Regions from separate parts of the Homo sapiens genome. Here region 1 is linked to region 2. The links come from fine-mapping of genetic effects on gene expression. A gene starts in region 2. The other region holds a variant in brackets. All regions are shown on one strand. Distances are from middle to middle.

Region 1 (8,337 bases), 310 kb before region 2:
TCAACTAGTTCCCTTTTGATGGACATTCAGCTGATTCTAGTCTTTTGCTATCAGAAGCATGGTTTCAATAAACAGATTTGCATATACATCTTTCTGTATTTTGGACACAGATTCCTAGAAATGAAGTTGCTAGGTTAAAGAACGAATGCACGCTCTATTTTGCTAGATATTTTACTGTATATTTTTTCAATGACTATTTCTAACACGACTCATAGATGAAGTAAAAGTTTGGTAGAAAAAACTGAAATTCTTATGCCACAAGAGTTGATGAATAGTAGTATTATTTAAAAGGATTTATATAATAAAAGCTAGTGAATAACAATTACATAATTAAACATATATAATAAAAAGCTAGTGGAAAAACTAGTGGTAAACAATTATGTAAAAATAATAAAACCAAACATGCTTTAAACATTTTAAATTCGAAACATTTCACCTTTCTGATCGAGACTGTTCAACCAAAAGAGCAACTAAAGCTATCATCTTTTCAAGGGCAGCTGGCCTGTATTTTTCTTCTGCCAGAGAGAGGATATCTTCTTCCTCCTCTTCTTCTTCCCCTTCTTCCTCTGATAACACTTCAACTTGAGGCTAAGTTGGAATAAAATTCAATTTTAATACGGTAGTAGTTTTAATATCATTTTGAGAACAAATGACTTGTTTTATGTAACAGTGTAGATGGTGGCAGGAGCTTGTAACATGAAAAACAACTGCACAAAGACCTAAACCTAATGTAAAACACTCTAAACCACATTCAGGACAATCTTAGATTAAACTGCCAGAACTGTAAAGAATAACAATTCTCTGCCGGGCATGGTGGCTCACGTAATCCCAGCATTTTGGAAGGCTGAGGCGGGTGGATCATTTGAGGTCAGGAGTTCGAGAACAGCCTGGCCGACATGGTGAAACTCCGTTTCTACTAAAAATACAAAAATTAGCCAGGCGTGGTGGCACGCGCTTGTAATCCCTGCTACTCGGGAGGCTGAGGCAGGAAAATCGCCTGAACCTGGGAGGTGGGGGTTACAGTGAGCTGAGATAGCACCACTGCACTCCAGCCTGGGAGACAGAGTGAGACTCTGTCTCAAAAACAAACAAACAAACAAACAAACAAAAAAAAAACAAAAAACCTCAACACTGACTACTTACCTTACCTATAAACCCTTGAATAACTTTTTTCTTATAAGCAAGCTCATTGGAAGACAAGTCACGATAAAAATTGCAAGTATGATAAAATAGTATTTCCTATTTAATAAAAATGCCAGTTATACAAAATAAGAAATTCTTATTTATAGTTCCCTGATAATCCAAATAGTGGGTATTTCAAAGAGATATTCACTTGGGCTTCTAAATGCAGACTCAAAAGATTTTATGATCTACTAGTGTATATTCTGTGAAGCATTACAAAACAGTGTTTAAGAGTTTTAGCTCAGTAGTCTGACCGAGGATCAAAGCACAACAAGTCACTGTGATCTAAAACAAATTAACTTCTCTAAGTTTCAATTGTCTCATCTGTTAAATGGAGATATAAAGGGTACTTATCTCTTATGGTTAAGAAAAGGACTGAAAAAGAGTGCAAGTAGATCATACAACCTAATGCATTTGTTATGAACAACACAAAACTGATGTAATACTTTAATATTATTCATAGACCACCTACTTAAATTTTGGAAAGACTCTCATAAACTTAATAGCAAAGAACTTAAAAATGTGACCAGCAAAATGTTCACAAAAACAATTCACTATTGATAAGACCCTAAAGTAGGTGACCACTTTGCCTAAGTTTATTTGCTTTGTTCCAGACCTTACCAATGAATGAACTTCATTACCTAGTTGTTTCTTTCTTGCTATATCCATTAAAATTACATTAAAAACATCAACCAATCTTAGACCCTTCATATTATCTAACACCAGGTTCCAGAAGGGACTTTAAAGGGTTCTAACATCTCAGGACTTCGCACGATGCAAACTATGAAAACCAGAGCCTCTAATACCTAATGTACGATAGAACTGTACTTACATTTTCAGGTCCTTTTGTTCCCATGTAAAAATGTACCATTGTAGATATAGCTTGCAATGAAAGCAAAAATTGGCTCTAAACAAACAAACAAACAAAATTTAAAAATATAAAATAAAAGCAATTAAGTTGCAAATACTGAAAAAAGGTAGATAATCAAAAAAATAGACAAGATATAGCCTCACCTCTTCTTCACCCATTTTTGCAAATTCGTAAAGGAAGGCAAAATACTCTGTAAGATGTTTACTGTGAGGTTTTACACCATGTTCCATAATTAATAACAGGGTTCTCACAAAGCGAGTGACACATGAACGACCACCAATATCTTCTACTGAGGTATCCATATCATCTGACCTAAGAGACAATTAAATAGATCTTAGAGAATGTATGAGGTCTGGAAATACTGTTCGAGAGAAAAAGTACTTTTTAAACTCTGAATTTCTTTTATCTTTGAGATAATGAATATGAACCGCAATAACTTAAGTAGTTATTGTGACTGGCTAAATCAATGCAAACAAAAAGACTAAGCCATAAAGTAATTTGTAGAGGATTTTGCAGATGCAAAATTTAAATAAAACAAAAACAGTTTTACCTTCTTGAATGTATTATTACAGATTATTTTTTAAACAGAACAAATATTTCAGTGTGGATTTTAAAAAATATTTTGTAGGCAGGTTGTTAAGAAACTTAAAAATTAGGGCTAAGCATGGTGGTTCATGCCTGTAATCCTAGCAATTTGGGAGGCCGAGGCGGGCGGATCATTTGAACTTACGAGTTTGAGACCAGCCTGGGCAACATGAAGAAACCCTATCTCTTAAAAAAAAAAAAAAAAAACAAAAAAAAAAAACAAAAACACCACACACACACAACACAGACACACAAACTTATTCAAAAAGTACTTCTTACCCATCTTCCATTCCTGGCTGCAAATAGAGATGAGCATGCACAGGTCTCAGCCTCTGAATCACATGGATACACAAACGCTGAAACATCTGTGAAGAAAGAAAAAGATCAAACAAGAGCCAACTCATCAGGTAACAAAGATTTGAAAAATTAACATGATTCAAAATTCTCTGCCACCCATTTATAGTTTGCACAAGATTATCTTGGTATTCTGGAGCTCTTCTGGAGTCTCAACAATGGACTAAGGAAATGAGGCAAAGGTAGCATTAAAAAAATTCAGTTTTATGATAAAGAGAAAAAACTCAACAAACTGTACATTTCAGTAATACAGATGATCAAAAACAAAGCTTCAAAAAATCCTTTTAGCTAGTGGAGATACAGAGAAAAGAAAATCTAGTATCCAATTCCTTAAGAAGAGTGGAATGGGGAAGGGCCGCTGCTCATCATGGGGTCAGCAGCTAGGAGAAGGAAATGTGAGGATTCTTTAAAGATACACAAGTGACCCACAATCACATGAAAAAAATGTGTAACCATTTTGAGAAAAATGCATACCAAAACCACAATAAGATACCACTTCATACCTTCTAGGATGGCTAAAATAAAAGACAGTATCAGCTGCTGAAGATTATGGTGAAATTAGAACACTTATATATCACTGGCAAGAATGTCAAACACTGCAGTCACTATAAAAAAACAGTTTACCAGCTGGGTGCAGTGGCTCAAGCCTATAATCCCAGCACTTTGGGAGGCTGTGGTGGATCACCTGAGGTCAGGAGTTCGAGA[C/T]CAGCCTAGCCAACATGGCAAAACCCCACTTCTACTAAAAATACAAAAATTAGCCGGGCGTGGTGGTGGGCACCTGTAATCTCAGCTAAGGAAGCTGAGGCAGGGAGAACTGTGTGAAGCCGGGAGGTGGCGGTTGCAGTGAGACGTGATCACGCCATTGCACTCCAGCCTGGTTGACAGAGTGAGACTCCAACTCAAAAACAACACCAACCAACCAACCAAACAAAAAACACCAGTTTACCGCTGGTGCAGTGGCTGTAGTAACAGCACACTGGGAGGCCAAGGCGGGCAAATCACCTGAGGTGAGGAGTTTGAGACCAGCCTGGCCAAAATGGTGAAATCCCGTCTCTACTAAAAATACAAAAAATTAGCTGGGCACGGTGGTGCGCGCCTGTAATCCCAGCTACTTGGAAAGCTGAGGCAGGAGAATCACTTGAACCCTGGAGGCGGAAGTTGCAGTGAGCCAAGACCACGGCACTGCACTCTAGCCTGGGCCACAAGAGCGAAACTCCGTCTCAAAAAAAAAAAAAACAAAACACAAAAACAAAAAACAGTTTACCAGTTCTAAAAACATACACAAAGAAGTGACAAAGTATATCCAAACAAAAACTTGTACTAAAAGTTCCTAACAGCATTACTAAAAACAGCCAAAAAGTAGAAACATCTCAAATATTCAGCTGATGAACAGGTAACACAAAATGTGGACTATATACATTTGACAAACTATTTGGCAAAAAAAGAAAATGTAATATGGATACATGCTGTGACATGAATAAATCCTGAAAAGATTGTTAAATCGAAGCAGTAAGTCACAAAAGACTAATAGTGTATGAGTCCATTTATATGAAATGGTCAAAATAGGCAAATCTATAAAGATAGAAAGTAGACTAGTAGTTGTCAGGTATTGAGGAGAGAGGACAGGATGAAATAGGAACTGATTGCTAATGGGTATAGGGTTTTTTTTTGGTGGGGGGTGGGGGTGGCAAATGTTCCAAAATTAGGTAGTAGTGATGGCTGCACAACTTTGTGACTATACTAAAAACCACTAAATTTTACATTTTGAAAGGTCTGGGTAAATTTTATGGTATAAGAATTGTAACTTAGGCCAGGCTCAGTGGCTCACAACTATAATCCCAGAACTCTGGGAGGCTAAGTTGGGAGGACTGCCTGATCCCAGGAATTTGAGACCAGCCTAGGCAACAGGGGAGAGACACTCTCTCTACAAAAAAATACAAAAATTAGCCAGGTGTGGTGGTGTGTGCTTGTAGTTCCAGCTACTCAGGAGGCTGAGGTGGGAGAATTGCTTGAGCCCAGGAGGTGGAAGCTGCAGTGAGCCATGAAGTACCACCGCACTACAGCCAGGGTGACAGAACAAGACTCTGTCTAAAAACAAAACAAAACAAAATTACCAGGTGTGGTGGTGTGTGCGTGTAGTCCTACCTGCTGAGGCAAGAGGACTGCTTGTGACAGAGCAAAACCCTCTAAAAAAATATATATACATATATATGTATGTTCTATATAAATTTATAAATATATAAATATGATATATAACATATATATGTAATATATACACACACGCATATATATCTCAATAGTAACTGGAAAGTGGCATACGTCAACTAAGTTTTTGATTTTGTGAAAAGTGACTATAAAGTAATATTTAAATTTCATTGTCTATTTTACCCAACAATTTAAAGAAAACAAACTGTTTCGTTTGACAGTTCAGACCCAATCACAGAAATAAGTTACAGCCTTTTCATTAGCTTTTGAGGTCACTATAGTACCCTACCATGGTTAGAATGTGTAAGGATTTTAAAAGAATCAGTATAACTCATAAAGCATCTAATAATAAAGAGCAGGATCTAATAATAAAAGAACAGGAAATTACAGTCAATCTTCCTATATCCAGGAAATGTGCATAATTTTAATCACCTTATTAGAGTGAGAGCTGATGTTAAAAGAACCTGGTGAAACCAACAACAAAATGACTTTTATGATAGGAGGCAGATCTTTTCAAACTATTATCAATATTAGGTTAAGACACACTTATAAGCAAATTGAGAATAATTAAATTGAAAGTAACTTCTTTTCCAAATAATTTTTTTCAAACATATTTTTCCTTACCTGTCTCACAATTTGATTAGGGCACTTAATTAGTATCTGCATTGGCCACCAGTCGTCATCAGCCATACGATCTAAAAACCACTGTTAAAAAAAAATACAGCATGACTTTAACATTCAACAAATATTTGTTACATGGGATAACAGTCACATAAGAATTTTATTTCTAGTCAATGTTTTAATTCTTTTAAGTTCTTACCAGAAAAGTTTCTCTAATTGTCATAAAAGTCAAACTCTAAAATCATAATAAGGGTTACCTCATTACACAACTCCATGGAATGCCATTTACATTATAGTACACAATGTGCATGACAATCTGTGGTCCTTTATCATAATAAAATATCATTCTCTTAGCCCTCATAAATGTGACATAGAATCTTTAGTTCTTATTAATTATATATATATATATATTCCCCCCCCCCTTTTTTTTTTTTTTTTTTGAGACAGATCTTGCTCCGTTGCCCAGGCTGGAGTGCAGTGGCACGATCTCGGCTCACTGAAACCTCTGCCTCCCAGGTTCAAGTGATTCTCCTCCCGAGTAGCTGGGATTACAGGCACGCACCACAATCCCTGGCTGATTTTTGTATTTTTAGTAGAAATGGGGTTTCACTATGTTGGCCAGGCTGGTCTTGAACTCCTGACCTCAGGTGATCTGGCCGCCTCAGCCTCCTAAAGTGCTGGTATTATAGGCGTGAGCCATGTCACCCGGCCACCTATTAATAATATGTGATATGAGCATGATTAATTTTCTTTCTGTTTAAAAACAAATTATGATCTAATTAGCACTTGAGAAACTCTGGATCTATCGAACAGCCATGAGAAGAGAAGGAAACAGAGGAACATGTTAAACACCACCAGGAAAATGCAATTAGTCAAAGAAAGCATGTGGGAAATCCTACAGCACAAATGACAAAAAATGGCATGGAGAAAAAAAAAGTAACTTTTATAGATTAAGGAAGACTTAACAAACAGATGAATGCAAAATGTGGAACTTGTTTGAACCACTCATTTAAACCAATCAACTGAAAATTTTTTTTTGAGATGGAGAAAACTGAACATAGGATGGGTATTAGATGACAAGAATAAATCACTTCTGGCCAGGTGTAATGGCTCATGCCTGTAATCTCAGCACTCTGGGAGGCAGAGGCAGGAGGATAGCTTGAAGCCTGGAGTTTGAGACCAGCTGGGCAACAAAGAGACTCTGTCTCTATAAAAAAAGAAAAAAAATTAGCTGAGTGTGTTGGTATGTGCCTGTGGTCCCAGCTACTCGGGAGGCTGAGGGAGGAGGCTGAGGCAGGATTGCTCAAGCCCAGGATTTTGAGGTTGCAGTGAGCTATGACTGTGCACCACTGCATTCAACAGCCTGGATGACAGAGTGACACCCACTCTGGGGGTAAAAAAAAAAAAAAAAGTTATAAAGATGAGAAGTCACTTCTAATATTACTGGGAGTGAATGAAATTGTGGTTGCATATGTTTTTGAAGTTTTCTTATGTTAGAAATATATACTGGGTGTTTATGGATGCATGATCTATTTAGGTTTCCTTTAAAATTCTTCCATTATGGAAAAAAAAGGAATAGGGGATAGATGAAACAAGAAAGAAAGATTATTATTATTTATTGAAGTTGAGGAACAGGTATGTGACAGCTTATTATCCCTTTCTACTTTTGTCCATGTTTCCAAATTCTCATTACAAAATTTCAAAAAGTTACACTTTAGTGTTTGAAATTTCTGAGGAATAGATTCCCTTACTCTATTTCTATAAGGTATAATCAGATGAACTTCTAAATATGCAAAAAACCTTTAACTATAATTCATCTATTATATACCAGACTGCTATTCCCCACTTCTGTTAATTCGTAAGACTTGCCTTCCTATGGAGATTTACAACTCTTTGGTTGCTAACCTAGAAGTTAAGATGGCAATATGATTAAGCTGTCATTACCTTTGAGTGGGTTATCCTTAGGGATGCACCTCTTAAAATAGGGGATGGAGAGAGAAAACCAGGCATAAACTGATCTACTGAGACAGGTGGATAGGTGAATTTTTTTTTGGCGGGGAGAGTGGGGAAAGAGGAAGTGACAGATGATGTTAAGCATTTTCTAACAACATACAAAAGTAGTTAAGAGAGGGATGGAAGAAATAGGAAGATGATGTTGGCCAAAGAGTACAAAGTTTCAGGTTTATTTTTTATTTTTATTTTGTTAAATTGAGACAGAGTCTCACTCTGTCGCCCAGGCTGGAGTGCAGTGGTGTGATCTCAGCTCACTGCTTCTCTGCCTCAAGGGTTCAAGTGATTCTCCTGCCTCAGCCTCCCCAGTAGTTGGGATTACAAGTGCACACCACCATGACCAGTTAATTTTATTTTTAGTAGAGATGTAGTTTTGCATGTGGGCCGGGCTGGTCTTGAACTCCTGACCGCAAGTGATCCGCCCGCCTCAGCCTCCCAAAGTGCTGGGATTACAGGCGTGAGCCACCATGCACAGTCCCAAGTTTCTGTTTTAAATAAATTCTGGGGAT
Region 2 (8,337 bases):
TTCAACCCTCAATGAATTGGGGGATTGAAATAAAGCTACAAACATATTTACTGAATATATGATCTAGGAAAAAAAACTTTATGGGCAATATGCCTAACAAGATTTTTTAAATTCCAGGTATTCATTGGCAAGGTAAAAGCTGTAAAAGCTTGCCCATTCCCAAATAAAAAAGAATTCTAACAGAAAAATGAGCTACTTCGCCTAAATATGCACTGGTTAAAACCTACTAGTTCATATGCAGTGCTATCCTTTTAAGAGGATTCTACTCTAAGATGCTGGCACACATCCACTTTTTTGTTGCCCAGAATTATAAAATATATCTTTCCTCTGCTTTTCTTCAAAGCCAATGCCACTCAAACCTAATTGGTTAAGTCAGTAGTCCTTAACCTTTTTGGGGGTCTAAGATGCCTGAGACTCTGAGGAACCAATAGCTCTAACCCAGTTTTTAAAAACTCACGATTTTGTATACAATTATAGAGGATTCAGGACATCCTGAAAGCCATCCATGGCACTCCCAGTTTAGTGTATTTAGAACTAACAAGGTCAGATCTCCACTTCTTCCCATTTTAGGAACTTTCGTGGACCAGAAAATGAGTAGCTAATTTCTTTACATTATATTTAGACAAACTAGCTTGGCAGGGCGGAAAAAAAGTCATTAATTCCTGGCTATTTTATAACAGCTTAAAAATGTCCATAACAATAATGGCAGCAAATTCTATTTTAATGCAATTGTCTTATTTAAATATAACGTCTGTTACAACAGATTAGAACTCCAAAAGATGAGTCACCTATGATTGATATGATGTAAAAATAATGTAAAACTCAAGAAATTAGGAGTTCAAGAATTGGTCCATTATTGACAAAACTGATGAGACTTCAAAACGTTTCGTAGTAGGCATTAAACAAACGTTTTTAAACAGCAGAATACTTGTTACACACCACAAAAAAACCTTAAGATCTAAATACTGAGAGGAAATATATATTCCACAAATGAATGTGTAAACTCTCCTCCACCTTCAAGTACCATAAAATTTAAAAGATCAGAACAATCTTAATTATTTGAGGCTTAAAAGCAATGTCCACAAAGCACCAAGATCCATGTATCAAAAGTTTTCAAATATTTCGGTTAAATATTGAACAAACTTTTCACCTATTTACTACCATAGTTGAATGCTAAAACAAAAAAGGATTAAGAAAATGACTCTTACAAGTTTCATTTTCAAATACACTGTTCTTATAAAATTCTCCGAACTAGACTGATGTGAAAAACGAGATTTAGAATAGAAGGATTTAAATACAGTAGTTTGCCATCCTTAGAACTAGCGGCTATCTTCGAAATCACCTACCTATTCCTGAACTGTACATAGTACAGAAATGGCGGCTTTGTGGTCAATGCCAAGCACATTTAGTCCCCCAAATCAAACCGCTTCCAAAACATTCTTTCCACTAACAGCAGTGTCCCACACTTAAGATATACAATCAGACAGCAAACAAGCCATAGTGCGAGAGGTGTAACCACGAACGCTCATTCCCATTGGGCTCTTCAATCCTAAAATCCACTCACTGGATAACATACACTAGGGATTATCCAGCTTAATGGATAATGTGACTCTACAAGTGACACCCAATGCCAATTCCTAAACAAAACCCAGAAAATCATAACCGTTGCTTAATAACTTCACACTAGGTGAAAAACAAGTCGCTACAAGGCGAAAGACTGCTCCTTAGGTTGTGTGGGCAATCGCCCGCTTCATTCAGGAAAAACACACCTCATTAGGGCCCGCCCTCCCCTCGCTTCCCACCCGAACCGATTTGCAGCCCTTCTAACTATAGCACACAGGAGCACGCACTCACCCCGCCCTTACTCGGAGGAGGCATTTAGACCAGGCGCCTTAAGTTCACCGCCCCTTTCTCTATGCAGCATGGCCTCGGCGTGATCAGAGGAGGTCCGGGCTGAGCCAGTACTGAATGCTTCCTCTACTACACCACTTCCTCCCACCCAACCCAAACTCACAGACATCGGAATGAAGGAGAATCAGGGCATCCTCCACTGTACAAGGCCAACAGTAAATGGTTTAACCAACTTATCACATTCAAACCCCTGAAAAGGAACTACAAGACGGAATCCCATGTGCAGGCCCCTGAAAAACTGATCTTTCCTACTTCACATGCCACTCTGCAAAACCGGAGAGCTTTCGAGTTTCCTTGCTGGAGGAACAGGGAGTCGGCAGCCCCTCCCTCCCCCATCCCAAGCTCTCCACCGAGGGGGCCACGTGATGCAGGCGGACGTTTCAATGCTGCTGCACTAAATATTTCTGGAAACTTCCACTCCTAATAATTTACAGAGATGTTCCTGAAATCACCCCAACTTCTCCCCAGCCCCAGGGGCTGGGGAACCCCTCCCACCCCGCGCGGGGCCCCGCTTCACTATCACACTCCTCGCCTTCCTCCACCGCCACCCGCACACGCGAATGACCCAGCAAGCGCTCCCCTCCCGAGGCCGCCTCCCCGCCTCCATCCCCCAGCGGCAAAAGCGGCTCCATTCAATCGCAGGCTCCGCTGTGGGCCCGCCGCGCCCCCGGCCCGCCCGCCGCCTCCCGGGCTCGCTTCCCGCGGCCGCCGCCGCCGCGCCCCACGCCGGCCTCCTCCCGCCCGCCCGGCCGCGCCGCCGCCCGACCCTCGGCCCCGAAGACACAGTCGACTTACCCAGAGATTGAACCAACTGCTCCTTCCTTCCTCGTTGGGGGATTAGGGCGAGGGAAGGTGGGGAGGGGGGAGAGGGGACGAATCAAGGTGGGTTTCAGTTTTCCCACCTCAAAAAAGGAAATTAAAAAAACGGACAGGAAAAGGGCAAAAAGAGCTCAATAATATTTACTATTTCAGGGACGCTTCCCCCAACACACACACACACACACACACACACACACACCCGCCCCCCCCCAAAAGGGGAATTAATCTGGGGAATAAATGCTCCCGCCCGGCTGGGGAGTGAGGGAAGGGGGAGGGAACGGGGTCAAGTCCCAAAGATTCAGCCCCAGGGGGACCCTCCAGCCACAGGCAGCAGCAGAAGCGGCAGGAGTAGGGGGTGTAGAGTCCACACGGCCGGGGAGACGCTCTGCTGCCAGTTGCAGTCCGACTCCCCCCTACCAAAACACGGCTCCCTCTCTCACGCGGCTCCGGCGCTGGCCCCCCCCCCCCCAAGGCTCGCCTAAACTTTCCCCCCTTCTCTTGTTCCTCAGCGACTGGTGGTTCCCCCCTCCCCCTCTGGGTGGTTGCACGGACTGCAGCAGCAAAGACTGGAACAGGCACCGCCGCCGGGGCTGTAGCTACTGTTGCTCTTGCTGATGCTGTAGCTCCCGCTGCTCCTGCCGCGGCCGCTGCAGCCGCTTCTCCCCCTCCTCCTAGTGCCTCAAACTCGGAACCGGTTGAAACCGGTTCAGACTGGGAGATTCCATCTCGGTTGAGTTTTCAGCCCATGGCGCCGCGGAGCGTTTGGAACCTGGGCCTCCGCCCCCAGCCCGCCCTCCTATTGGTCAGTTCCAGCTACAGCCGCGCCATGAGCCTATCTCTCATTGGCCCGAGCGCCAGTCAATCCCGCCTCACGGCTCCACACGAGCCCGCCGCTTCGGCCCCTACCTCTTTTCAGCAGCGATTTGCCCGCAGAGTGGGGGAGGGGAAGTGGGGAGGGTCGAAAGGCAAGAGGAGAGGGGTGGAGGAGGAGGAGGTGGGACGAAGAGCAGGGATGAGTAGAAAAGAGAGCGAAGGAAAGCCGCGTGGAGGATTCGTTCGAACGAGCTGTCAATCAAGAGCAGCCCGCCCTCGAGCTCTCGACTTCCCTTCCCCCTGCGGCCCTCTCCCTCCCGGTGCCTAGTTCGCAGGCCCGGCCTTTCTCGCCCGCTCATTGGCTGGGCCTCTTCGGTGACGGAGAGGGTGGGGCGCAGCTCGTGAGCTGGTGGCGGCGCGAGTTTGATCGGGGCGCGCGGCAGCGTTCTCTTTGCTTCCCCCGGACTCGGCCGGCCCGCCCCCACCGGCTCCCGCCAACCTGCGGGGGCCTGAGCCCGCGGGAATCAGGATCCGCCCTTCGGATGGGGGCTGCGTTCGGAAAAGGGAGGGCACACCCAGTTTTGAACTCTGGAAGGGGTGGAGAAAAGAGGGAAAAAGAACGCTTCCGAGGCCAATTTTAGGCCCCAGACCTCTCTAATCCATTTTAGAGGCCTGGTTTTGGGGCCAGGTAGCTGAGAGAGGGGTTGGGGTGAGGCGCAGGGCGTGCATTCTTGGCGCCTCGTGATCTTCTCAGGGTGTCGGAAAAGATATCGAAATACTTCTTGGGAAAGTCTCCTTAAAATTTCAACTCTGTCTCTCCAGGCTGGAATTTGGCTGCTTCAACAAGCAACCTTTCCTGAAAACCAAAACATTGTAATCCCAAGTGATTGGTTTGACAGCGCATGTTTTGGCTGGCTGAGCTTGCATGCCAACTGCGTCCCACCTGGTGCCCTTGATCTGCAACACTCAGATTTTCCTTTTACCCTAGCTGCACTTCACGTACTAAATCATCATCAAATAGTATTTTCTGTGAAAGTCACATGCACGTTGCCTTTCACGTGGTTGCCTCTCGTTTGTTCCCAAGCGTCCTCCAAATCAGCTTTACAGATTGTTCTTTGCTTAAGAGCAAATAGCCCACCAAAATTTACTAGGCCCTTTGTGCCACCAAGAGGTAGATAAATGATTTATTGAATTAATAACAATTTTCTTTAGCAAATGTTCATCCACGATGGACTATGGCTAACCTCAAAGCACCACTTATTCTAACTCCCCCTCCAATAAAGAAAAACGCAACAACTCAATGTTTAGATGTACCAGAATTATTTTGGATGATTTTCAGACCTAAGTTTTTATTCATTACATAAATGAATAATATCAAGCCATTTTATATACATATATAATACATATATAATGTACTATGTATGATATATGATGTGCAGTGGGCCCTCTGTATCCTGGGTTCCCCATCCTCAGTTTCAACCAGCCCTGGGTGGAAAACATTAAAAAACAACAACAACAATAAAAATAATACAAAATAAAACGCAATGCAGTATATTTACATAGCATTTACATTGTATAAGGCATTATAAGCAATGTAGAGATGATTTAAAGTTTACATCGTATAAGGTATTATAAGCAATCTAGAGATGAAAGTAACGGGAAGTTTACAAATACAGTATATGCAAATACAGTAAATCCTCACTTAACATGGTCATGGAGAGGATCTTGGAAACTGCGACTTTAAACACAAGGATAGGCCAGGCATGGTGGTTCATGCCTTTAATCCCAGCACTTTGGGAGGCCGAGGCAGGCAGATCACTTGAGGTCAGGAGTTCGAGACCAGCCTGGCCACATGGTGAAACCCCTCTCTACTGAAGATACAAAAATTAACCTGGCGTGGTGGTGGGCACTTGTAATCCCAGCTACTCGGGAGGCTAAGCGGGGAGAATGGCTGGAACCCGGGAGGCAGAGGCTGCAGTGAGCGGAGATCACGCTACTGCAGTCCAGCCTGGGCAACAGAACGGGACTCGTTCTCAAAACAAACAAACAACAATAAAAAAAACCTACAAGGACATATAACAAAATCAATTTTACCATAGGCCTGTAATCCCAGCATTTTGGGAGGCAAAGGTGGGAGGATCACTTGAGCCCAGAAGTTCAAGACCAGCCTGGGCAACATGGCAAAACCTGGTCTCTACCAAAAATACAATAATTAGCTGGGCATGGTGGCATGCGCCTGTAGTCCCAACTACTCGGGAGGCTGAGGTGAAAGGATCACTTGAGCCTGAGAGGTTGAGGCTGCATGAGCTGTGATGATGCCATCATGCAGACTGTACACTCCAGCCTGGGTGACAGAGTGAGACACTGTCTCAAAAAAAATTACCAATCTAACTCTGACAAAAGTGTGATTGTGTATGATGCTAAAACAGGGTGAGAGAGAAAGGATCTTTTTTTTTTTTTTTTTTTGGAAAAAGTATCTCACTGTGTCTCTCCCAGGCTGAAAGGATCCTCCCTGACTCAGCCATCTGAGCAGCTGGAACTGTAGATGCATGCCACCATGCCTAGCTAGTTTTTTGTAAATAAATATATATATATATAATATATATTATACATTATAAATATATACATATATGTAATACATATATATGTAAATATATACATATAAATGTAAATATATGTGTGTGTGTATATATATATATATATATATATATTTTTTTTTTTTTTTTGTAGAAAGGGGTTTTGCCATGTTACCCAGGCTGATCTCAAACTCCTGTAGGCGAGTGATCCTCCTGCCTCAGCCTCCCAAAGTGCTGGGATTATAGGCCTGAGCCACCTTGCCCAGTCAGGATACTCATTTCAAGAAAAAATTGACCTGGGAAGATAAAGTATGGGTTGCACCCCTATTTCCATCAAGCTCAATTTAGTGTGGAGAATATTTATGGAAAATTATGAGTATTCTGTCTGTGATGTTAAGACCCCAGTGAATAATCTACGTAGAGTCTGTGAAGCCTCAAATCAATCAGGAGCAGAATCAGCAGTTGCCTGCAGGTGAGTTGCTACCTTTTGAGAACATAGTGAAAAAGTAGGTGACAAGGCTGCTAAATCTAGGAGTTACAGTTTGATAGTCTGAGAAATCTGTACAGTTCTTCTATGAGGTGACATTGAACAATGGGTCCCAAGAATCTCTTACTCATGGAGAAATGAGAGAAGTGTATCACTTAACTTGGACCATTCTCAGACAGGACAGAGGAAGCTATAGCTGTTTTGGTTGAAGTACTTCTAGGCCAAAAATAAAAATAATGAGATAGGGTTATAGGTCTGCTGTAACAGTCAGTTTAGGCTGCTGTAACAAAGTACCATAGTCTGGGTGGCTTAAACAACATTTATTTCTCACAGTACTGGAGGCTGGAAGTCTGAGGCCAGGGCGTCAGCATGGTTTAGGTTCTGGCAAAGGCCCTCTTCGGGTTGCAGACCGGTGACTTCTTCCTGTACTCTCTTGTGAAGGGGGAAAAAAGGCTAGAGAGCTTTCTGGGGTGTCTTTTATAAGAACGCTAATTTCATTCATGAGGACCCTACCCTCGTTATCTACTGACTCCCAAAGGCCTTATCTCCTCATACCATCACATTAGGGTTTAGGATTTCAACATACTGATTTTCAGGGGACACAAATATTCTGTCCGTTGCAATATATAAGAAGCAAAATAGAGTAGGGAAACTAAAGTTGGTATCTGTGGATTGAAAAGATATGCCATTTCTTTCTTGCACAAAAACATCTCATTATGGGCCAGGCATGGTGGTGGCTGATGCCTGTAATCCCAGCCTTTGGGAGGTCAAAGCAGGTGGATCACAAGGTCAGGAGATCGAGACCATCTGGGCCAACATGGTGAAACCCCATCTCTACTAAAAATACAAAAATTAGCTGGGCGTGATGGTACATGCCTGTAATCCCAGCTACTCGGGACGCTGAGGCAGGAGAATCGCTTGAACCAGGGAGTCAGAGGATGCAGTGAGCCGAGATCATGCCACTGCACTCCAGCCTGGTGACAGAGTGAGACTCCATCTCAAAATAAATAAATAAATAAAAATAAAATGAGCTGGGCGAGGTGGCTCATGCCTGTAATCCTAGCACTTTGGGAGGCTGAGGCGGGCAGATTACTTGAGGTCAGGAGTTTGAGACCAGCCTGGCCAACATGGCGAAATCCCATCTCTACAAAAATACAAAAAATTAGCCAGACGTGGTAGTGCACGCCTGGAATACCAGTGCTTTGGGAGACTACTGTGGGAGAATCACTTGAGGCCAGGAGTTCAAGACCAGCCTGGGCAACATAAATGAGAGTTTGGCTCTACAAAACTAAAAAAATTAACCCAGGCATGATGACACATATCTGTGTCTTAGCTACTCAAGAGGCTTAGGCAGGAGGATCCCGTGAGCCCAGGATTCAGGCTACAATGAGCTGTGATCAAGCCACTGCACTCCAGCCTGGGCAGCAGAGCAAGACTGTCTTTAAAAAAAAGAAAAATTATATATGGAGTCATGGAAAAATGTGAAAAATAAACGAAAATTTAAAAAAAAAGAAAAATCAGAAAAAAAACCAAAAAACCTATTTTATCAGGTGCTCTGACTAGAAAAAAATGAAGAACCTAGCAAAGTCAGTGAATCTATTTCAGTAGTTCTCAAACTGAGGGCACTTCCCCAACAAGACATTTAGCAATTAAGTGTTGGCTATCAAAACAACACTGTCAGCTAATGTCAGAATCAGAGCACATTACAGGTAAATCAGAAGGTGAAGTATA

Evidence for each region.
Region 1: its variant is fine-mapped to the expression of XPO1 in whole blood (TOPMed, PIP 0.90).

The regions. Positions count from the first base shown.
Region 1 is chr2:61,226,631-61,234,967 of GRCh38, forward strand. USP34 (ubiquitin specific peptidase 34) reads right to left here. Exons shown (of 80, transcript NM_014709.4): 58 at 5,822-5,902; 59 at 2,918-3,003; 60 at 2,197-2,365; 61 at 2,015-2,089; 62 at 437-588. Among named protein-coding and RNA genes, the nearest start is that of C2orf74-AS1, 53 kb to the left of the region's middle. The variant C/T (reference allele first, on the strand shown) is at 3,698.
Region 2 is chr2:61,534,856-61,543,192 of GRCh38, forward strand. XPO1 (exportin 1) reads right to left here and starts at 3,501. Exons shown (of 25, transcript NM_003400.4): 1 at 2,707-3,501. RefSeq lists enhancers at 1,292-1,351, 2,072-2,131, 3,226-3,485, 4,054-4,843 and a silencer at 3,976-4,115.